Homo sapiens: one gene and its partners. The protein of the gene in region 2 interacts with the protein of the main gene of each other region in a pairwise test. Each region holds a gene or a part of one and is shown on either strand. Other genes may lie near its edges.

Evidence for each region. The genes of interacting proteins can lie anywhere in the genome.
Region 1: the proteins of ZNF655 (region 2) and KRT40 interact in binary tests that used the Homo sapiens proteins (3 or more experiments, as listed by UniProt).
Region 3: the proteins of ZNF655 (region 2) and MPP3 interact in binary tests that used the Homo sapiens proteins (3 or more experiments, as listed by UniProt).

Annotation. Positions count from the first base shown.
Region 1 is NC_000017.11:40,981,144-40,989,594, forward strand, and holds the start of KRT40 (keratin, type I cytoskeletal 40), read right to left. Parts: upstream 3,184-8,451; 5' UTR 3,131-3,183; coding exon 2,684-3,130; exon of another isoform or gene 1,986-2,683; coding exon 1,903-1,985; exon of another isoform or gene 1,321-1,902; coding exon 1,164-1,320; intron 837-1,163; exon of another isoform or gene 182-836; coding exon of another isoform or gene 158-181; exon of another isoform or gene 9-157; coding exon 1-8. UniProt on the Homo sapiens protein: May play a role in late hair differentiation.
Region 2 is NC_000007.14:99,568,486-99,576,172, forward strand, and holds part of ZNF655 (zinc finger protein 655), read left to right. Parts: intron 1-3,202; coding exon of another isoform or gene 3,203-3,307; intron 3,308-3,759; coding exon 3,760-5,099; 3' UTR 5,100-7,687. UniProt on the Homo sapiens protein: Probable transcription factor.
Region 3 is NC_000017.11:43,808,964-43,816,650, forward strand, and holds part of MPP3 (MAGUK p55 subfamily member 3), read right to left. Parts: intron 7,117-7,687; coding exon 7,075-7,116; exon of another isoform or gene 6,617-7,074; intron 5,681-6,616; exon of another isoform or gene 5,399-5,680; coding exon 5,234-5,398; intron 5,129-5,233; coding exon 5,048-5,128; intron 2,243-5,047; coding exon 2,149-2,242; intron 1,953-2,148; coding exon 1,844-1,952; intron 116-1,843; coding exon 1-115. UniProt on the Homo sapiens protein: Participates in cell spreading through the phosphoinositide-3-kinase (PI3K) pathway by connecting CADM1 to DLG1 and the regulatory subunit of phosphoinositide-3-kinase (PI3K). Stabilizes HTR2C at the plasma membrane and prevents its desensitization.

The DNA of each region.
Region 1 (8,451 bases), on a different chromosome or scaffold from region 2:
TTGACTTCCTGAAAGTGGGATGGTGTAAAGAATGTCACAGAATGGTGGGGAAAAATCCATTTGACATCCAATGGCATTCTACTTCTGTTTTTTGGAGCAGTGGGTAAAAGTGTGAGATTTTGATTCAGATTGCCTGGGCTGAATCTCTTTTCACCACTTAGAAGGGCCTCAGTTTCTTCGTCTGTAAAATGGACATAATAATTGGACATTTTTCCAGAAAGTTATTGTGAGATCTAGAAGAGTCAATCTACACATAATTAACTTATAAAAGTTAATTATGACACATAGTAAGGTGTCAATAAATGTTAGCTATGATTGTCATCAACAAACGTTCAAAGAGCAAATGTACTTTGTTACATCATTCAGCTTTTCATTTTCTAGCTTTATCAATATATCAGTGGCTGTATATTTTATGATTTTTAGAAGTTTATAAATGCGGAATATTTAAAAACACTGGTCCAGATAGTGCACAGTCTTTATCCCTTTTTTGAAATGGACTTCACAGTCTGTTCCTCAGCCTGATTTTCATACCCTGTGGACTGGAGCTAGGGGTGGCATAAAGCCTCCAAAGGAAGCCATTTGTGAAGTTACCTCCTCCACAAAGGCAAGGGCAGGAGAAGAGTTTGATTCCTTCCTCTGGCGCTGTCTAGGGGTTATTTCACACCTTAAATCAGAGACACACTGGAATGATCAGGTTGAATAGTAATAATGCCTCGAGTAGTTTTTGTTTGTTTGTTTGTTTGTTTGTTTTTTGAGATGGAGTCTCGCCCTGTCACCCAGGCTGGAGTGCAGTGGTAAGATCTCGGCTCACTGCAACCTCCGCCTCCTGAGTTCAAGTGATTCTCCTGCCTCAGCCTCCCGAGTAGCTAGGACTACAGGCGCCTGCCACCATGCCCAGCTAATTTTTGTATTTTTAGTAGAGATGAGGTTTCATCATATTGGTCAGGCTGGTCTCGAACTCCTGACCTTGTGATCCTCCTGCCTCAGCCTCCCAAAGTGCTTGGATTACAGGTGTGAGCCACCATGCCTGGCCCTGCCTCAAGTAGTTTTATTCCAGCTTAAACAACATCTGCCCAAATTCGATTTACAAACATCAACAGATCATCTGTCAATGTAAGTACGTTACTCTCGGAGTCCTTCAGCGGAGTTGCCACTTTCCTTACCTCTTCATGGTTTTTCTTAAGGCAAAGGAGATCTTCCTTCAGAGACTCCACATGGGCCTCCAGATCAGATTTGCACAGGGTCAGTTCCTCCAGGATCCCATGCAGGCTGCTGATGTCAGCCTCTAACAGCTGGCGAAGGGACAGTTCACTCTCGTACCTTTCACAGCAAAAGAGAAATCCAACGCTTACTTTGCTGAACGCTGTGCAAAGTGTGGGGATACATGGAGGATCGACACACGGACTTCAGGAAGCCATGTGCATAATTTCTCTTAATTCCTAAGTAATGATAAATTCAAGCTTTTAAAACATTCTTAACTTTAAAATATTATATAGAGAATATTTGTGTGTGTGTGTGTGTGTGAGAGAGAGAGATTGAGAGAGAGAGAGCCATAAGTTATTTTCAAATTAAAATTAAAGCCGGGCGTGGTGGCTCATGCCTGTAATCCCAGCACTTTGGGAGGCCAAGGCGGGCAGATCACCTGAGGTCAGGAGTTCGAGACCAACCTGGCCCACATGGTGAAACCCTGTCTCTACTAAAAATACAAAAATTAGCTAGGTGTGGCGGTGCACGCCTGCCTGTAATCCCGGCTACTCAGGAGGCTGAGGCAGGAGAACCACTTGAACCCAGGAGGCAGAGGTTGCAGTGAGCTGAGATAGCACCATTGAGCTCTAGCCTGGGTGACAAGAGTGAAACTCCATCTCAAAATAAATAAATAAAATAAAATTAAATTAAACTTACTTTGACTTAAAGTCATCAGTGGCCAGTTTGCAGTTGTCAAGCTGTACAGCAAGTCTAGAATTCTCTGCTTTCGTGCATAAGATCTGGGAAGCAAGTCATTATGTGATAAATGATTCTTTGAGAGAAACCTAAGTAAACTTCTATCCAACAGCTATGCCATTAGCTATCTTTTGAAAGTCTTTATAAGAAAGTATAAAATCACCCTCAGCCTGCTTTTTTTTATTAACCTTGTCACTTCATGAAGAAAAAAAGCAGAGCCAATTTAGAAACAAAATAATGAAATAAAAAGGTTTAGTTTTTTAATAACATAAGACATTTTGCAACATTCTCAGGCAGTTGAACACCATTAATGTTTTCTCCATCAGTAGTTTGTATTATGAGTATATCCTCTCCCATAATAATAGAAATTCATGGAGAGAAGAAAATGATTACTAGGTAGTTAAAAAGATGGCATTTCATGATCTGTGTTCAGATAATGTAAATGTTCAGTGTCACGTACAAAAGCGATTTTGGATATAATACAGTTTTTCTGCATTCTATAGATGATGAAGGAAAAGTCTACAGGCAAGTTACTTTATTATAGTCACTCAGTAATCAGGGGTAGCTCTGGGGCTGATGCTGAGGTTTTCTGACTTTCAGTCCGGTGCTCTCCCCTATGTATCACTAACTCTTAGAATTTTCCTTTCCCTTGGTTTCCTTCTGTAAAACAGCCCCTTCTAGTAGAAAGATAAAGCAAACCATAGATCAGGAAGGTGGAGCACTAGGGCAACAGGACACAGACCTTTTGTTGGAGATCTTCAATGGTGTTGAAGTAACGCTGATAATCCGGGCACACCATTGGGATATCCTGTTCACATTGTTCTTGGATCCTGGATTCCAGCTCTGCGTTGGTCTCCTCCAGGCTGCGCACCTTCTCCAGATAGCTGGCGAGTCTGTCATTCAGGAACTGCATCGTCTCCTTCTCATTGCTAGTGAACACCCCATCCTCACACCAGGCACAGTTCCCCACCAAGCAGGGACTATTACAACTCCCAGTAAAGTAGCATGGCAGGAGGCAACCAGTCAGCCCGCGAGACCTGGATAGGAAGCTTGGAGTCTGACATCGGGATGTAGCACAGGTACCGGGGAGACAAGCTGTTTCCACGGAGCAGCTTGAGGCAGGTGCACAACCGGAAGCCGTGCCACAGGACTCAGGAGAGCAGTGTGTGGAGGAGCAGTCAGAAGTCATCCTTCCAGAAGCAAAGACAGAGACTGGCTGCAAAACTTCAGTTGCCTTGACTCCAAAACTCTCCTCTCCTGAGAGTTTTATAACCCCCCAAAATGGGTGTTTACAGACTGCACCGGATGTTTTCTTTATCACTGATGGTGCCAGTTTTCGTACAAACATCTCATTAGAGTTGTTTATTTACTGAGGAAGAGTTTTATGCCTCATAAAATAGGGATAACTTTAGGTTACCAAAGCAGGACCCACACCATTTCCATGTGCAAGACAAAACACTTATTTCAGAAAATCGTCATAGGAAGCATTGTGCTTTTGACAGAATAATAAAAGAAAGAGAAAATTTGGCCAATGAATAATTATAGATACAACTCATTACAAATCAGGAAAATAATATGTCCACAGATTTTGATTCTGTGGATTGATTGCTTGTGTCCCCTTTTAAAATTAGTATTACAGCTCACAAAATGACAATTATTTGTTTGTGCCACCACCATAAAAATGGTCAGTGTGATTAGTAATCTTTCAATGCTTTTTGTGATCTCAGAGCATGTGCTGATAAAGACTGGAGGAGTGAGCTATATATTGGGTTTAAAGTGTGTGTGTGTGTGCAAACCATGTCTACCTGCGTACAAATGGAAAAGTCACTTTACATAACTGATAGGAATAACTTGTTTTTCTGCAGGCTAAAATATAAATTGGTTAGAGCTGGAATTATGATCTTTGATTTCCTGAAACTTGCCTTCTCCACATTTCTCATTGCTTATTGTTAGATAAGTTATACTATTTTACCTGTATTCCTAATAAGAGTGAAATATAAATTCTAAGTTATAACCTTTTAGTCCCTTGGGAATTCCTTAATGATTATACTTCAGAGTAGGGGCAAGGAACCCACAGGAATCTTTTCTTCTGAGATGTAGAGCCTGTTTTCTCCTATTTATTTATTTATGAAGGCCTGAATTTCATGAAAATTGAAAATACTGGAACTTGGAAAATAAAATTCTATTTAGGTTCCAAATCAGTAATTCCACTGGATGAAATCTCTGGTGCCAAATCTGACAGACAGGAACTTGAGATACGTAATTTTTTTGAATTATCTCTTGGATTTCACCTCCATTGTGAAGGATAATCTATTTCACTTTGCTTGGTTTTAGTCGTTACATTTATTTCATTTTCAAAGGTGCATAGAGAAAATTGTCTCTAGAATTTTTAAGAACATTATAGGAAAAAAACAGATTAATCTGAAAAAGTTAAAAAATTTTTGATCCAGAATAAACTTATTTTTTCTCCTAATCTTGAGTGCTACTTCCTAGGTACCTGATAGTAGAAACCAAACCAAACCAAACCAGAAGAACATATGTAAGTGAGTTAAAATAGTCTCTTAGGATTTATTACTCCCTGGGCAGAGCTGGGTTTGAATTTAGTGATTCTCTTTACACATCAACACTTATGCAAAAAGTTCTTAGAGTGTCTCATGGTATATTGACGCTGCTCTGCAACAAATATGAGTTCAAGGATTCAAAAACACTTCTGAAAAATTACAAATCTCTGAAAGAAAATTATCTTTTCACAGTAACCTAATGAGTCAAAAGAAAAATATCTGTGAAGAAAACCCATGTTTTGGTTGTCCATCACAGGCTCCAGTTAGCTAAAATGCAGTCATGTAAGTGCAGGTAAAATAAGAAATATTTCCTTCTGTCTGGAACTAATTTCTAATTGTAAATTATTTGTTACTGGTTATTGTCCTGCAGGTAGGACTATTTATTTTGGTCTTGATTAATTAGGTAGTGTTGTATAATGATCTATAGCTATAGTCTCCATCGTAGAATATAGAAATCACCCAGAATTCATTTCTGTGGAGTCCTCCTTAGGGAAAAGAAGTCAGGCTGGCAGGACCAGAGGAAAGCAAGTTAGTGGGTGCAGCGCACCAGTATGGCACATGTATACATATATAACTAACCTGCACAATGTGATAAATAAATAAAAAAAACCAAAAAACAAAAAACAAAGAAAGAAAGCAGGTAATGTATAAGACTCACCTTCTTCATGGTCCAGGACACATAGCCCTCCTGCACAATATTCCTGCACCCAGCTATCACCAGACCTTCAGCTGATAGAAAAATGTAACTTAGCTCACTGCAACCTTAGTGTTATCAGTACCACACAAACCCTCTTCAGCACACAGTACAAGCACCATCCTGTAAAATCTCCAGCACGCCTTTGTCTCCTTGCAGACAGCCCCTTCTCTGCTGTGCTGCCCATTGCTTCCTTGCAACGTATTTTCATACGTTCTCTAATATATCTGCCTTTCTTTACCTACAACTATCTTGATAAATTCTTCTTACCCCCATGCCACCAGCCCCAGATAGTTGCTAATCACCCGTGACAATTTCTATAGCATATCATCACCAGAAGAAAGGAACATTGGGAATAGAGAAAAAGAAATAGACATCATGAAAGGCCATGATAAAAAAAAAAACCGACAACAACACGGTAGTTTATTTTGCATAATACTATGCTCTTACCTTACAACATCCACCTAGGCTGCCAGAATCATTTTCCTAAAATACAAACCTGCTTTTTGTCGCCTTCCACTTATGGAATGCAAACTTTCTACCTTGGCAAATATGACCTTCCCTAACCTGGTGCCAATTTACCTTTCTGGGCTCACTTCCTGATGTTCTGTCTCACAAACCCTAAGCTCCAGCCATCCTTCAAGCTTCGTAGGTACTATTTTCTTGGTCAAATGCTCTTCTGCTATTCGTTTCCTGGATGAACTCACATGTCAAGACTCAGCTGAAACGTCGTTCAACTGCCTCATGTGGAGATGTGGCTCCTCCCAGAGCACTTTGCACGCATCTCTGCTATAGCAGTTGTCTTGTTGCTTTTAACATTTGTGCGACAGGTTATAAGAGTTTACATGAGGCCTTAAGAAATTTGGCTCAGGGCCAGAGCTAGTATCCACGTGCAGCAACTTGGTTGATTTTCACTGTTTTGGGCAACAACCTAAATAACTTTTAACAGTGCCTGGGAATGTTCAAGGGTCAGCTCGGGTTCAAGCTGCAGGGGAAACACACAGCTGGCTGGGCCACAGGGTGGTCAAGGTAATCTGTTTCCCAAGGCAAAGAAGGAAGTGGAGGGATGATCTGGGTGACCCTACAACATGATCAATCATATTGAATAACTTGGTCACTCTACATTATCCTTTATGTAAATTGTTTTATTCAGTTAGTTGATAGGATTAGCAAATGGATTTCCACCCCCATCTATGTTCTTGAGAAATATTTCCTGTAAATTTCTTTTCTTCTAATGATCTTGTTAGGTTTTGGTATCAAGTTACATACTGGGTTCACAATATGACTTAGCTCTGCGTCCCCACCCAAACTTCATCTCAAATTATAAACCCCAAATCCCCACGTGTTAGGGGAGGGACCTGGATGATTGGATCATGGGGGCAGTTTCCCGTATACTGTTCTTGTGATAGTGAGTTCGTTCTCAGGAAATCTAATGGTTTTGTAAGTGTGTGACAGTTCCTCCTTCCCACGCTCTCTCTCACCTGCCCCCATGTAAGAAGTGCCTGCTTCCCCTTCCACCATTATTGTAAGTTTCCTGAGGCCTCCCCAGCCATGTGGAACTGGGACTCAATTACACCTCCTTCCTTTATAAATTATCCAGTCTCAGATATTTCTTTATAACAGTGTGAGAATGGAGTAATACTGTTCATAAATTAAATTGGGAAATGTTTCCTCTTTATTTCATGAAATTCTGTAAGATTAGTGTTATTTATTCCTTAAATGTTTGATGGAGTCCAGTGAGGCCACCTCTTCCAGGAGTCTCCCATGTGAAAAAGTTGTGTTTTGTTTTTAACTAGGAAAAAAAATGTCTGGGCGCGGTGGCTCAAGCCTGTAATCCCAGCACTTTGGGAGGCCCAGGCAGGCAGATCACTTAAGGGCAGGAGGTTGAGACCAGCCTGGCTAATATGCTGAAGGCTTGTCTCTACTAAAAATACAAAAATTAGTTGGGCATAGTGGCGAACACCTGTAGTCCTAGCTTTTCGGGAGGCTGAGGCATGAGAATTGCTGAAACCTGGAAGGCAGATGTTGCGGTGAGCCGAGATCACACCATTGCACTCCAGCTTGGGTGAGAGTGAGACTCCATTTCAAACACACACACACACACACACACACACACACACACACACACACACATGCACACACACACGCAAATATATGTATATTTGCTGACCTCTACATCAAATTGCTTACCTCTACTTATAGAAACCTCACAATGCTATTCAGTTGTTCTATTTCATTTTGTGTGAAAGTTGCATTTTTCAAGGAGTTTGTTCACTTCACCTAAGTTGCAAAAATACTGAAATAAAGTTGTTCATAATAATCCTTATCATGAATTTTAGTATCTGCAGTGTCTATAAATTCTCACTATTTAATTCCAGATATTGGTAATTTGTGTTTTATCTCATGCTTCCCCCATCAATCTGGCTTGATGTTCATCAGATTAATACTAATGTATTGTTTATTTCAAGGTTGCTGAAAGAGTAGATTTTTGATGTTCTCACCATAAAACAATGATCAGGTGCTTAGGTGATGGATATGTTACTTAGCTTGATTTATCTTTCCACAATGCATACATAAATCAAAACACCACATTGTACCCCACAAATATACATATACACAATTATTATTTGCCAACTAAAAAATAACTAAATAGAAGTACTTTATGAATCCTTTCAAAGAATCAAATTTTAGCTTCATTAATTTCCTCGTTTTCTATTCATTGATTTCTGATATTATGTTTATTATTTATTTCTTTCTCCTTACTTTGAATTTTAATTGTTCTTTTTCTATTTAGTTGAAATGAAAACTTAAGTGATTGATGAAGAGATAAATGAAGGTGATAAAGATGTAAATCTTATTTTCTAATATAATCATTTGCTGTATATTTTCTACTAATCCAATGCTGTATGTATCCCATAAATTTTTAAAATCTTTTGTTTTCATTATCATTCAGCTCATAATATTTCTTAAGCTGTATTGGTATTTATTATTTGATCCATAGGTTATTAGAACTGTGTTGTTTGATTTTCAAATATTTGGTGATTTTTCTAAGTATCTGATTGATTTCTCATTTAATTCCATTGTGGTCAGATAACATATTTTGTTAGATTTTGGAATTTATGGAGACAAATTTAATGGCCCAGAATATAGTCTATTTTGGTGAGAGTTCCTTATGCATTTGAAAAGAATGTATATTCTGCAATTGTAGGGGGTAACATTCTGTAAATGTAACTGAGTAAAATTGTTTGATACTAT
Region 2 (7,687 bases):
GTGATCTGCCTGCCTTGGCCTCCCAAAGTGCTAGGATTACAGGCGCGAGCCACCGTGCCTGGCTGGGGTTTGGATTTTTATTGTAAAGGATTTCCATTTCCTTGATAATAAATCATCTTTTAGATCCCTTTTAATTTTTAATTTTAATTTTTTGTAGAGATGGAGTCTCACTATGTTCCCCAAGCAGGTCTCAAATTCCTGAGCTCATGAGATCCTCCTGCCTTGACCTCTCAAAGTGCTGGGATTACACGTGTGAGCCACCATGCCTGGTCCATAGATCCTCTTGATTCGTTTGTTGGTTGATTGACTGACTGACTGACTGACAGGATCTCACTCTCACCCAGGCTGGAGTACAGTGGTGTGATCTTGGCTCTCTGCAGCCTCGGCCTTCTGAGCTCAAGCGATCATTCTGCCTCTGCCTCCCAAGTAGCTGGGACTACAGGCGTGTGCCACCATGCCTGGCTAATTTTTGTATTTTTTGTAGAGGTGGGATCTCACTATGTTGCCCAGGCTGGTCTCAGACTCTTGGGCTGAAGTGATCTGTCCGTCATGGCCTCCCAAAGTGCTGGGATTACAGGTGTGAGCTTCTGTGCCCAGCCATAGATCCCTTTTAATTAACACTTCTGCGACTCCAATTATTTAGGATCCTGGTTCACCGTATGTTATTCTAATCACTTTTTCTCTGTTGTTTGTATTTACCTTTTACTTCACTGTCAATATTTTATAAATCATATTAGAAAACTCAAGATTTAAATAAAATCAAAAAGTTTTAATACATTAATTTTAAACAGGAAAAATGTAAATAAAGCAAGTGCATATTTTGAAAGCAAAGTTTTGAGTTAAATTTAGGAAATAGGCATTTAGGCTAGTGCCAAGAAAACTTACACGTTCTTTCTGTGTGTAATTTGGAGGAAGGGATGGATTTTGTTCACAGTCATTATTTATTTTTTTTCAGGGCTTGTTAGGAGGCAAAATCATAATTTTTTTTTTACTAGCAGATTGTTTAAAGGCTAGGTTCTGAAATAAGACTGTGCAGGTTTGAAAACTAAGCATTACCAGTTATTGTAACCTTGGGCAAGCTACTTAACCACTCTGAATCTTAGTATTCCCATCTGTAAAATGGCTATAATAATAGTTTCTACGTTTTAAATTTATGGTATTAAATGAGTGAAAACCTAGAGAGCTCTTGGCATGGTACTTTGCACCTACCAAGTACTTAGTAAAACTTAATAATATTTTGATGGTACTGATGATACCCTGTTCTCTCTTCTAAACTGTGATATTGTATCTTTACCTGCTAGGCATTTTCTCTTTTAAAAAAAATTATTTCAGTAGTTTTGGGGGCGTACAAGTGGTTTTTTGTTACATGGATGAATTCTAATACATAGTGGTGAATTCTGAGATTTTAGTGCACCTGTCACTGGAATAGTGTACATTGTACCTAATATATAGTTTTTTATCCCTTGTCCCTTCTCCCACCCTTTCCCTTCTTAGTCTCTGAAGTCCATTTTATCACTCTGTATGCCTTTGCGTACTCATCTGCTGGGCATTTTCTCTTATACCTTCGTACATTACATTAAACACACATCTAAAATCAAACCCCTCATCCCACATGAAGACCACCTTTTTTGTTGTGCATATGTGTTTTAAGTGTAGATATGGAGTAAGCAGCCAGAATTTATTTCAGTTACCAAATATCGACAGACACTTTAAATATCTCAGAGTTAAAAGTTGCAAATTATGTTATTGGAATTCTGAGAACAATATTGATTGCTGCTTCATGTTACACTAACTTTACTTTTTAAACTTCTGAAACGATTTCATTTGACAGGGTGGACCTTAATTAAATATATGTCCACAAGGAGAGTTGACTCTAAATGTCCCACAGGATTTCAGAAACACAGTAAATACCTTTCTTCTATCTATTCTGATCTCCTTGCTCATAGGCTCTCACATGGAATCTTTGGGGCAGCTGTCAGTTCTTCATATTTTCCAGCCCCAATGCCCTTTTTATAAAATTGGGTAGCTGTTAATACATTGATACTTGGGCGCACAGAGTTGGCACTCAATAAGTAGCCGTTAAGTAAATTAATCAAAAGAATTGCAAGATACAAGATACCTGGTCCCTTCTATCAAAGAGTTTATAAATCAAGTATGAATGACAATACCTGAAACCACTTAAAAAAAAATCTATGTAAACACCGTTATATGTGACATGTCAGGATAAGAGGGAACAACTAATAAATTTTGTACACATTCAGTAAATGGAGAGAAAGGTTTTTGGAGATGAGGGGCTTGAGCCAGACCTTGTATGTGTGCTATTAGAAGCTTTCTGGGCTGGACACATTTAAAAACTGCCCTTTGATACTAATAGTATTAAAATTCTGTCTCCTTGGAAGCAGACTGCCTGTTGCTTTAGCTTTAAAAGAGATTTATATCCAAGCATTGCATTATGCAAGCCATAGAAAGACTGTTTTATGTGAAGATGCACTGATTGCACTTCCCTCTCTATATTTTATTGTAGTTAGTTGTTTAGAGCTGTCTCTGTGTAGAGTGTGAGGTCCTTGAGGGAAGGGACCTTCTTGGCCTCTTATCCCCTGCATACTTTGCATAGAGGAGGCACTTCATAAATGTTTGTTGAATAAATGCTACACTCCTAATGGGTAAGAATGTGTCATATTACTCTTTGTTTTCTTATGTGTACTGAAACAAATTGTTTCTTGAGATTGGTCCTTAGAATATTTATTCAGTTTTCACTGATTCTCTTGCTACAGGTTAGCTAACCATGCAGCAGGTGCTTGAGTTTCACCTTTCTCCAGTCCAGCAGAATTACATTTTGATGACCTCCATTTTGATACTTGTAGACCAGATCTAATCCGAAGATTAATCTTTAGGTAACAGATGGAGAGTGATAATGATAACTTCTGTGAAGACAAACCCATGCACACATTCTGTTGTCTGAATAATATTTAAATGAATCCTTCTGCTCCCAAGTCATCAACTTGCCCCTTAACACACATCCCTCTAGAGCACAAATCTGAGCTCCTTGTAGATCTTTGCCCTCTTCACTCTCCAGACCTTCCTAATTAATGTCTTCTCAGAATCGACCTTCTGTCTCTCTTAATCATTAGTTAAAAGAAAAAGTGGCAGATGTAGGACCTGGGGATACATTGCCACATCCCATTTCCTTCTCTATGAGCAGGATTTCCAATTTCCAAGCCTGATGGGATCTCCCAGCTGGAACAGGATCTACAGGTCTTTGATCTGGAAACTAAGACTAGAGAAGTCTTAAGAGATGACTGCTCAGGTGAGTAAGGCAGAATCAGATAGAATTAGTAGGGAAGTAAAGTTCAATTGTTGAGCCAAGTTGTAGCTGCTTTGGCACTCAGAATGAAGAGCTCTGTGTGTGTCCTAGCATGGAGAGTTCCTTCCTTTTCCCTTCAGTTAGGTTGACCCTTTCCATTTGTTTAGTATCCGTGCACATGTCGTACTAGACCCCAATCAAGTTGCTTATCTAAAATTCTTTCAGCTGTTTCCCTATTATTTCCTTACTCTGCTGAACATGTCCGCTGTTTTACCTCACTGCTCCTGTTTATGCCCTTAACTTCTGCTGTTGAGATTTTGTGCCTGTTTTTCAGAGTAAATAAACTTTTCTTGTCCTTGTAGATACTACATTGTTTAGTTTTCTCATCTGAGTTTTCTTTTCCTAAGCACAGGGTACAGATTACATTTGCATTTTCTATTTATATATTGTATCAGATGGAGAGACCAGAGAAGAGAACAAGCTGTTGATTCCTAAGCAGAAAATTTCGGAAGAAGTGCATTCATACAAAGTGAGAGTAGGAAGACTCAAACACGATATTACCCAAGTTCCTGAGACTAGAGAAGTGTATAAGTCTGAGGACAGATTAGAAAGACTTCAGGAAATTCTAAGGAAATTTCTGTACCTGGAGAGAGAGTTTAGGCAAATAACAATCAGCAAGGAAACCTTCACCAGTGAGAAGAACAATGAATGTCATGAACCCGAAAAAAGCTTCAGTCTGGACTCTACTATTGATGCAGATCAGAGAGTTCTTAGAATACAGAATACCGATGACAATGATAAGTATGACATGAGCTTCAACCAGAATTCAGCCTCTGGTAAACATGAACACTTAAATCTAACAGAGGATTTTCAGAGTAGTGAATGTAAGGAAAGCTTAATGGATCTCTCCCACCTTAATAAATGGGAGAGCATCCCTAACACTGAGAAATCCTATAAATGTGATGTATGTGGGAAAATTTTCCATCAGAGCTCAGCCCTTACTAGACATCAGAGAATCCATACTAGAGAGAAGCCCTACAAATGTAAAGAATGTGAAAAGTCTTTCAGTCAGAGCTCAAGTCTTAGTCGACATAAAAGAATACACACTAGAGAAAAACCTTACAAATGTGAAGCATCTGATAAATCCTGTGAAGCGTCTGATAAATCCTGTAGTCCAAGCTCAGGCATAATTCAGCATAAGAAAATTCACACCAGAGCCAAATCTTACAAATGTAGCAGTTGTGAAAGAGTCTTCAGTCGTAGTGTCCACCTTACTCAACATCAGAAAATTCACAAAGAGATGCCCTGTAAGTGTACTGTATGTGGCAGTGACTTCTGCCATACTTCATACCTACTTGAACATCAGAGGGTCCATCATGAAGAGAAAGCCTATGAGTATGATGAATATGGGTTGGCCTATATTAAACAACAAGGAATTCATTTCAGAGAAAAGCCCTATACGTGTAGTGAATGTGGAAAAGACTTCAGATTGAATTCACATCTTATTCAGCATCAAAGAATTCACACAGGAGAGAAAGCACATGAATGTAATGAATGTGGAAAAGCTTTCAGTCAAACCTCATGCCTTATTCAGCATCACAAAATGCATAGGAAAGAGAAATCGTATGAATGTAATGAGTATGAGGGCAGTTTCAGTCATAGCTCAGATCTTATCCTGCAACAAGAAGTCCTCACCAGACAGAAAGCCTTTGATTGTGATGTATGGGAAAAGAACTCCAGTCAGAGAGCACATCTAGTTCAACATCAGAGCATTCATACCAAAGAGAACTCATGAATGTAATGAAGATGGGAAGATATTTATCAAATTCAGGCTTCATTCAGCATCTGAGAGTTCACACCAGGGAGAAATCATGTATGTACTGCATGTGGTAAAGCCTTCAGTCATAGCTCAGCCATTGCTCAGCATCAGATAATTCACACCAGAGAGAAACCCTCTGAATGTGACGAATGAAGAAAAGGTATTAGTGTTAAACTCTTAATCGACTCCTGCAAATCTATACCAGTGAGAAATCTTACAAATGTATTGAATGTGGCAAATTTTTCATGCTATTAGTATTTTCATACCTTAGTCACATTTGGAGAATTCACATGGGAATAAAATTCCATTGCTGCAATGAATGTGAAAAAGCCATCAGTCAAAGAAACTACCTTGTTTAGTATCAAATTCACGCCATGCAAAAAGATTATAAATGTAATAAGCATGTATGTGTGTGAGGAGATTCAGTCATAACCCAACGCTCATTCAACATCAAAGAATTTATACCTAAGAGAACTTATTTGGGTGTAGTAAATGGCAGATCTTTCAATAGGAGTTTAACTAGTCTTTGTCATATCAGAATATCCATAGTAGACAAGAATTTGATGTAACGCAAATGGAAAAACTCGACACCACATTTCAGGCTTTACCCAACATCGAAATAATGGAGAGAAAATTGTTGATTATTTGTTTATGAAATTGTTAATACATAGTCCCAATCTTTTTCATTGCACAAAAATCTAGGGTTGACTTGGTAAATGCAGTGACATTTTCTCATGGAGTTCCTTTATTTAATATGTATTCTAAGTAGGTACGTTTATTTTTACTTTTTTATTATAATTTTGATATTAAAAAGAACAGAGATGGGGTCTTGCTTTGTTGCCCAGGCTGGTCTTGAACTCCTGGCCTCAAGCGATCCTCCCACCTGTCCTCCCAAAGTGCTGGGGTTACAGGCGTGTGTCACTGTGCTGGGCCTATTTTATTTATAGAACTCATTTAAGCTGTTTTTATTTTAATATGCCCTATAAACATTTTTATATTTTTTGAAATTGGTTCTTAGTGTTCACAACTTCCATAAGATACTGCTAATGCACCAGTATTAAAACACATCGACGTAAGTAGCTCATTTAGCTTTTTCTGCTGTTCTTGGCCCAAGTTCTTTCCAAAACCAACTCTTAGGCCTGCTCTTTACTAGGGATCTTATGTCGTATTGCTTTACAGCCACAACACTTGGATTCCTGTTGATTAACTTCTCCATTCTCTTAAGCACCTTTAGAAGATTTAGAAGTTTCCTAGTTTTAAGTGTTTCACCAGCAAGTATTCCATACCTACTTGATGTTGCTGGTCTGGTGTCTTATTTCCTAAAGTGAAGCATCTTTTTTTAAAAAAGAATTTGATTGACAATATATCCAGTCCAATATAAGTATGAAGGATTCTCTCTCCTGAGATTGTAGCAGGCAGCCAAACATTTTCAAATGATGCCCAAGGTTTTAGCTGTCTTGTGTGCATCCACAGTCTGCGAAGAAGACATGATAAGGACATCAGGGAGCCAACAAGACTCCTAATAGCCTCACTACATTCATCCAGTGCCTATTCTGCATGCCTAAGCTTAGAGTTCTTTTATATACCTCTACGGCCAGCAAAATGCTCAGGTCTGCTCTTGGTAGGGTAAACATAAAGAAGATACACAGGCCGGGCATGGTGGCTCACACCTGTAATCCCAGCACTTTGGGAGGCTGAGGCGGATGGATCACGAGGTCAGGCAGTCGAGACCATCCTGGCCAACATGGTGAAACCCCGTCTCTACTAAAAATACAAAAGTTAGCCGGGTGTGGTGGCACGCGCCTGTAATCCCAGCTACTCAGGAGGCTGAGGCAGGAGAACTGCTTGAACCTGGGAGGCGGAGGTTGCAGTGAGCCGAGATTGCACCACTGCACTCCAGCCTGGGCGACAGAGCAGGACTCTCTCTCAAAAAAACACAAAAAAACAAAAACAAAAAACCATACACACACACACACACACACAAATCAGCATCATAAGGGAATGTAGCCTTCCAACAGAGATGATGCTGTTCGTATGTTAATCTCAGAGACAGTATTTCAAGAGAGTGGCAGGTCTGTTCCTGGTAAAATTTTAACCATTAGGATTGCAGATAAATGTTTGAATTCTGCTCCTCTCTCATCAATCCAGGACAGTATTTGAAGTGTGAGGGCTTTGTGTATAGTTGTTTATCCATTACCACATTTTTGTATTTTAATAGTCTACAGGCTATATAAAAGAACATGGCTTTTTGACTGATAAAAGTGATTACAGATGTTGGCTCAAGTTCAGGGCCACCATCATATACCTAACAAGAGTTCATGATTCTTTAGGTAATGTCAAAACATTTTGTATTTTTCCATCTTAAGCTTTATAACATTTTGTGAGTAAGACAAATGTTATTTAAAATTCTTGTTGTCAGTCCAGCAATTGAGGCTTTCATAGTTCAGTGTTATAATATTCAGTAGGGACCCTCAACAAATATATAAAAATATGTTGCTCACTCTATAATCCTCCTATGGCTAACCTCTAGGATAGTTCTGCCACTATATTTTACTTCTTTGCCA
Region 3 (7,687 bases), on a different chromosome or scaffold from region 2:
CTGCTGTGTCCTCACAAGCTGGGGACATAGGTGGCGTTTTTCTTTTTTCCTGAATTGCAGGCTTTACAAATATAATATAGGGTTTAAATTCTGAGGTCCTCAGTTGTTTCAGTGCCTGAGAAAGAAAGTTCAGGAATATTATATACTTTTGAAGTGTTTTGTTGTGAAATAGACTTTTGAAAGCTCAATAATCGTGTGCTTCAATACCATAACCTCAACAGCAAAGGTCCTGGTTACATGGGTCCCATGACAATGGACTTCAACTGGGCAGACCAACTGCTCCTTTTCTCATCCTTCACTTTGACGTTGAACTCAGCGGGGCCCTGAAGTCACACTCACTGCCAACAGAAGGTTCCTAAGCCTCAGCTCAGAGACAGTTGCTGTCTCTCTTAGCTCTGACTCCTCCGGCTATAATTAACCTTCTCAGGCTCCTCTCCACCTTCCATTTCTGATGGGTGAGGAAGCAGGAGTCAGTGTGTATCTATTTAGTCAAATGTCATCAATCGGACTACATTATTACAAACTTTGTGCTATTACATCTCCTCTTGGTATTCAAAGAAGAAAAGGTTTGCAAAGCAAATGAGATTACTGAACAGATCATTTAAAACTGTAGACTGTAGAAACTGCACTCTTGGGCCAGGTGCGGTGGCTCACACCTGTAATCCCAGCACTTTGGGAGGCCGAGCCGGGTGGATCACGAGGTCAGGAGATCAAGACCATCCTGGCTAACATGGTGAAACCCCGTCTCTACTAAAAATACAAAAAATTAGCCAGGCGTGGTGGCGGGCACCTGTAGTCCCAGCTACTCGGGAGGCTGAGGCAAGAGAATGGCGTGAACCCGGGAGGCGGAGCTTGCGGTGAACCAAGATCGCACCACTGCACTCCAGCCTGGGTGACAGAGCAAGAATCTGTCTCAAAAAAAAAGAAAAAGAAATTGTACTCTTGATTAATGCATTTTATCTAGAAGTAAGGGCTCCACTTGGAAACACTAGTATTAAACTGCTATATGCATTATCTGCACCCTTGATCAATAAAGTGATCAATAAAATCACTTTTCAAAGAAAATTTTGAAACTCAGACTTTTAATTTTGATCACTAACTCCCTGTAAGTCCAAATGAGTGTTTTCCTTTATAGGCATAACGTGCTTTTTGGAATATATTTCAAGCAAACTTCTTTAAAATAAAGCCTACAGTTTATAGCATAAAATCAGAGATCTGTTTCTATAGAGGGGAAAAAAAATCCCCAGATTGAGTTCAAAGCTTGGAAGTTTTTCTAAAAGACAAGGTTAAAAAGATGGTTAAGCCCCTGCTGAGTCCACAGCATGCTGGGTGTGCAGGAGTGGAAATGTTTTTGAAGCACTTCCCAGGGCCGTGTCTCCCTCCCTCTTTTTCCCCTTTAAACTGCTCTCCTCACTGCCTCCCTGAGTGGTTCTCTAAGCCACTGACTCCACCTGCCCTGGTTGGGGAGGGGGAGGCCTGGCACCGAGAGCTCAGCCCCAGTTTCACCTGGGTACTGACATCTAATTCTCTGGCACATTGCAATGGCCAGTCAGCGCCACCAACTATTGCATGATCTGTTCCACGCAGGAGTTACTAGCCTGGGTCTGTGGGCCACCAGAGTGTCCACAAGCTCCCTACAATTAATGCAGCATTTGTGGATAGAGGGGCATGTTTTGGGGTACAAGGCTTTCATTTGATTCTCAAAGGAAGACCCAAAGAAATTGAACAGCCAGTGTTCTAGACTAAAAATTCCTTAGACTGAGGTTAAGTGTTGTGTAAAATGTACAATCCCCTAGTTATAAATTCCGTTAACCAGAAATGGCCAGCAGGCCCAGCAACTCACTTCTGGCTCCACATCCACCAAACAAACTTTGTTTTTGGCCATAACAGCCTGAATGGCCTCCAGGCTGGTTCCATACAGATTTTCCTTATATTCACCATGTTCCAGGAACCTAAAACACCACCAAAGGGGAAAAGGCCTTTAGTTCCTCAGCTTTCCTAAATTAGCAAAGCAAAGGGGACCTCCCAACATGACTTCTCTCCCGCTTCCCCCATCCTTTCCGGGAGTCCTCCCAGGAGCTCTAGTGGAATACAGATACAAAAACACACAACTGCCTGGAGGGCCAACTGGCCCATCAAGCAACGTACTTGTTGTGATGTAAGTCGGCCTCAAATGCTTGCTTAGACACAAAGTGATATTCCACTCCTTCCTTCTCATGGCTCTTTCGGGGCCTGGTGGTATCTTTTAAAGAAAGAAGGAAAGCTGGGCAAAGAGATGTCACATCACAGCACGCAGGGACAGCAGCAGGCTTAGGCACTCATTTGGGAGTTCACTGCTGCTGTGTCTAAACCAGGCACTTCCACCTCATTGCATGTCCCTGTATCAGGCACTGTGCCTTTCCAGGCAGGCGTATCACTGATTCACACAACAACTCTTTGATGTAGGCAAAAGGAGGCTTTTCCTTTTGCAGCTGAGAAAACTGAGGCACGGAGAGGTTCAGCACTGTGCACAGTGACCCACAACCAGTAGAGAGCACAGCCAGAATCGGTCTCTCTGCCAAATGCCCAGCTTATACCCTTAACCACTCTGCTAACTGACTCCCTGATGCTGTGTTTTTTTTTTGTTTGTTTTGTTTTGTTTTTTGTTTTGAGACGGAGTTTTGCTCGTTCCCCAGGCTACAGCGCAATGGCATGATTTCGGCTCACTGCAACCTCTGCCTTCTCGGTTCAAGCGATTCTCCTGCCTCAGCCTCCCGAGTAGCTGGAATTACAGGCATGTACCACCACACCCGGCTAATTTTGTATTTTTAGTAGAGATGGGGTTTCTCCATGTTGGTCAGGCTGGTCTCGAACTCCCGACCTCAGGTGATCCACCCGCCTCAGCCTCCCAAAGTGCTGGGATTACAGACATGAGCCACCGCGCCCAGCATATGCTGTGGCTTTTAAAGAATCACTTAAGGGACCCCTAGTCCTAACTTTTAATTCTTCATTGTTTTTTATTTTTTGAGAGCAAAGGAGCCACACATACACTTGACCCTGATGTATGCTTTTAATTCTTTAGTCAATTAGTTCTCATCTCCAGAAAAAGGAGACAGGAAGACAGACCGTCCCTATATAGATCGGATGTGTTTCAGCAAGGCTGGCTCTCAAACAAAAATGTTGAAACACATGGTGTTTTCTCATTGATTTCCATAACAGAATTGGGATGCACACTTCTGAGGAAAATCAGGTCTTCTGCAGAACAAGGGCACACACAAAGCCACACACACAGTATTTTCCAAAAGATAAAATGGGATCTTGAGGCACTGTGTCTTCTGGCCCATGGGAACCACCCAGGGTATGCCCTGTGTTCTTTCTGTGGCATCTTAGTCCAACCTCCGGTAGAGGTGCTAGGGTCACTTTTCCAACCATGTCATCCCCCTGCTTAAAAACTTGTATTTATCTATGGGTTACATTCTAAACACCCTAGCTGAGTATCTGAGACCTGCGTGATCTGCCCAACCTCTCAGCTCCATTTTCCAGCACACCATCCACACTAATCTCCCCGGTCCCCAACACTGCTCCGTCCCTTTGCACATGTTGTTTCCTCTGTAAAGAGAACTATTCCTTTCTCTTCTGCCTGGAAAACTCCTATTTACTCTTCAGAACCCAGCATAAAAGTCACTGCCTCTGGGAAGGCTTCCCTGACTCCCCCAGTTTCTAAAACAAAGGAGGAAAGTCTCCTATCTGTGGAGTGCCTAGAAGCAGGTGGGCCTGACCATCCAGGTACCTCTTCTCCAGGGGGTGGATCCAAGGGGTTCTGAACGATCAGTGTGTGAGCAACCTCTGCATGTCCTGTTTCAGTCCACCTGAAACTTGGAAGGCCGTGGCTCCCTGAAGCCCTCCAGGTCCATCACAGGTGTGCTGCCAGGATGGCCTCCCCAGGGCCACCACCTCCCCCACATCCCTGCCACTTCAGATTGGGCTGTGGAAGACAGCTCTGACAACCCACAGACTAGACGCTGGGCCCAGGGGCCCAGGGAGAGCGGTGTGATCAAAGCAAGGCTTCATGGTTGCTCTGCCCCAGAACACTCTGAGGAGGCCCCATTAGGGCCCCCACAGCACCCCTCTCAGTAGCCACCAGGCATTCACACTGCATCCCTCTGAGGCCAGGGGGACTGAGAGTGAGTCCCAGAAAGAAAAGGGGCAGCCAAGGGCACGAAGTGGGAGGCGGCAGGTGAGAGGCCATTGTGCATCCTCGTTAAGAACATGACTGGGGCAGGCTGCCTGGGTATGAATCCTGGCTCCACCACTTACCAACTGTGTGACATTGGACAAGTTACTTAACCTCTCTGACCCTCACTGTCTTCCTCTGCCACACAAGATGATAACAATCTCTCTTCTCAGGGGTACTGGGAGGGCTGACGCAGGGCACTACACATAAAAGCTCTTGGTGCATTACCTGGCACCTTCATTCTCCTCCTCCTCATCCTCCTTATCACATTCAGAACCAGGATCCTCTGCCCACTGGAGCTTGACATCCCAGGGTGCCCCTGGCAGCAGTAAGCCCCAGGAATTGGCAGGGGAGGCATCACCCAGGAATGTACCCAGCTACCCTGACAAACTGGAATCTGGCTATAAGGGAGTGCCGAGAAATACCACTCACAGGGCTCTGTGGCTTCTCTGACCTGCCCTCTCATCCAAGCAGAGGGCAGCGGCCACAGGAGTCAAAATTCACTGTGATGAGGAGGAATGCCCCCTACTGTGGGGGCCCCGTGGTGTCAGGTTGAGGCTGCCACTTTGCCTACAATGTGCTCTGGACTCATCTCCCACCCCAGGCAGGAACCAAGCAAGTGGTCCTCCAACTTCTGCCTCAGAGGGTCTCAGAGGACCACTGGGAGTGGATTTCTTCCCATCATGCCTTTGTCCCACAATTTGCCAATAGCAGGCAGTGCCTGGTGATCCTTTAAACCCAAAGTAAGGATTTGGATGGATCTGGGGAGTTAAGTCTCCATGGAATATTTGTGTGTGTGCAGACAAACACACACTCCCACATGGGCCCTCTTACGTGGAACAGCGACGCCAAAGTGCTGTGGGTTCTCAGCCACCACCTTTTGCTTCAGCTCGTGCAGTCGGGCTCCCAGAGACCCTGGGAAACAAGAAGAAGGCTGACCAGGGTCCCTGCTGAGCTCCCTCCCCACCTGCTCCAGGGAGGAAACCAGATCACTTCCTGGAAACCCAGGATGGCACCTACCGATCAGAACCACCAGGCGGGGCCGCTCTCCGGGCTGGTGTTGGTACCTGGCCACCTCTTCGTAAGTCAGCAGCTCCGGAGACTCAGCTCCGGAGGACATCTTTCCTTCCTGCGAGCCACCCAGTCTCTCCCTACAGCCCAGCCGGAAGCTCCTCCGAAGACCAGCTTGGGAGGAGGGGCAGAGGGACACCATGGCATTTGTCCCAGTTGTCCCAGGATCTCCCAGTAGAGACTTTTCCCACCTGGCCAGACCTGGAGATGGGACTGAGTCCCACTGACTTCTCCCAACCTCCTCCTGCTACTGGAAGAGGTTGTTCAGGAAATACAATAATAAGATGAAAGGGTGACCCCTGCATTCACAAACTAGGGCTTAAGGTCACTGTTTTACTTGGCATGTGACTGACCTTGGACAAGTCCCTTCATCTCTCTGAGCCTCAATTTCCTTACCTGTGAAATGAAGATATGAATCTACAACTACTATGTGTGGTCCTAGATTAGATCCTGGACCAAGGGAAAATGTCATAAAGGACATGATGGGGACAATTGTTAACATTTAAATAACAGCATATAACAGATTTGGATACATTTTAAATTCTCAGAATTTGATCACTGCCCTGAGAAAGTCCTTGGCCTTAGGAAATACATGCTGAGAGATTTAGGGTTAAAGGGACACGATGTCTACAACTAAGTCTCATATGACTCAGGAAAAAAAAATTCAGAGATGTGGGAAAGGAAATTGAGCAAACATGGCAAAGGAGCAACTGGTGAATCTGGGTGTGGAGTATATGAGAGTTCTTTGTATAATTCTTACACCTTTTCAGTAAGTTTGAAATTACTTCAGGACAAAAGTTAAGGGGCTGGGTGCAGTGGCTCATGCCTGTATCCCAGCACTTTGGTAGGCCAAGGCAGGCAGATCACTTGATCTCAGGAGTTCAAGACCAGCTGGGCAACATGGTGAAACCCTGTCTCTACAAAAAATACAAAAATTAGCCAGGTATAGTGGCATGCACCTGTAGTCCCAGCTACTAGGGAGGCTGAGAGGGAAGAATCGCTTGAGCCTGGGAGGCTGAGGCTGCAGCGATTTGTGATCACACCACTGCACTCCAGTGTGGGTAACAGAGCAAGACCATATCTCAAAAAATAAGTTTAAAAAAAGTTTAAAAACTTTTTAGAAAGGAGGATTGCTTGAAGCCAGGAGCTTGAAACCAGCTGGGCAACATAGCGAGACCCCATCTCTACAAAAAAAATTTTTTTAATCAGCTGGGCATGGTGTCAGATGCCTGCAGTCCCAGCTACTCAGGAGGCTGAGGTGGGAGGATTGTTTGAGCCTAGGACATTGAGGCTGCTGCAAGCTGCAATGTCACACACTACTGCACTCCAGCGTGAGAGACAGGGCAAAACCCTGTCTCTAAAAAATAACCAAAAAACAAAAAAAACTTTTTGCCTATCTCTAAGACCTTTGAAAAAACTGACCAAAACAAGTGAAAAGGGGCTCTGGAGAGCCGCAAACACCCCTCACTGCGTGGTAGTGGTGTTAATATTGAATAAACTCCAATTGCAATGATGGTGATAATAGAATTGGTATTAATGTAGGGGTGTGTGTGCCTTTCCCGCCAGGGCAGTGTGCCCCACAGCTGGGTAAAAGCTGGGTGGGGGCCCAATGCCTGGGCAGGCTCAGCTCCTGCTTGGGTTGAGAGAACTGAGGAGAGATGGGGGTCCCATAGGCTCCACTGCTCCAGAAGGACTCCTGGGGCTCAGATCACCCTGCTTTGACCTCTCCCTAACTCTGGGGCCTTGGGTGGGGCAGGTCGTGCATGTGGGTGTCAGGGGGAGCTACTTACCCACATAGTGCCCTTTGAGGTAGCCCTCACAGTCACAGGTCTCTGGGAAGCAAACAGAGGGAGGGAAGCCAGTGAGTCCCACCAGACACATCCGGCCCAGGGCACCCAGCCCCTGGATGGCCAGGCAGGAAGAGCCCCCTGGGATGGTGTCTCGTGGGGAGCTCAGGGGAAATCCCATGTCCTGGACACCCCAAGAAAGCAAGGTCCTCTGTTTTGCTCAGTTCTCCATGCTTAGGCCCCTAACAGCCTTTCCAGGCCCTGAGGGGGATTCTAGGCCAGCAGGCCTCCCCAGTCCCTGAGTGTGAGCAGTGTGAATAGGGAGGGATTCACTCCAGCCTGCCCTGCCCTCCCACCCCTTGTCTCCTATCCAGCCCCATCACAGCGTAGCCGAGTCCTGGAAAGGCTGGGCCGCACGTGTCAGGAGGGCAGGGAGGTGCCCCTAAGGCCTTGAACCCTGTCCCCACCAGCTTTGCCTGCCTCAAGGAACAGCCCAGTCCAGCTGGCAGAGCAGGAAGAGGTGCGCAGACAGTGGGAGGGGCACAGCTGCCCAGATAGGGAAAGAACACGAGCCCCTCAGGCCCCAGACGTTCCACGGAAAAGGGGCCACGCCTGT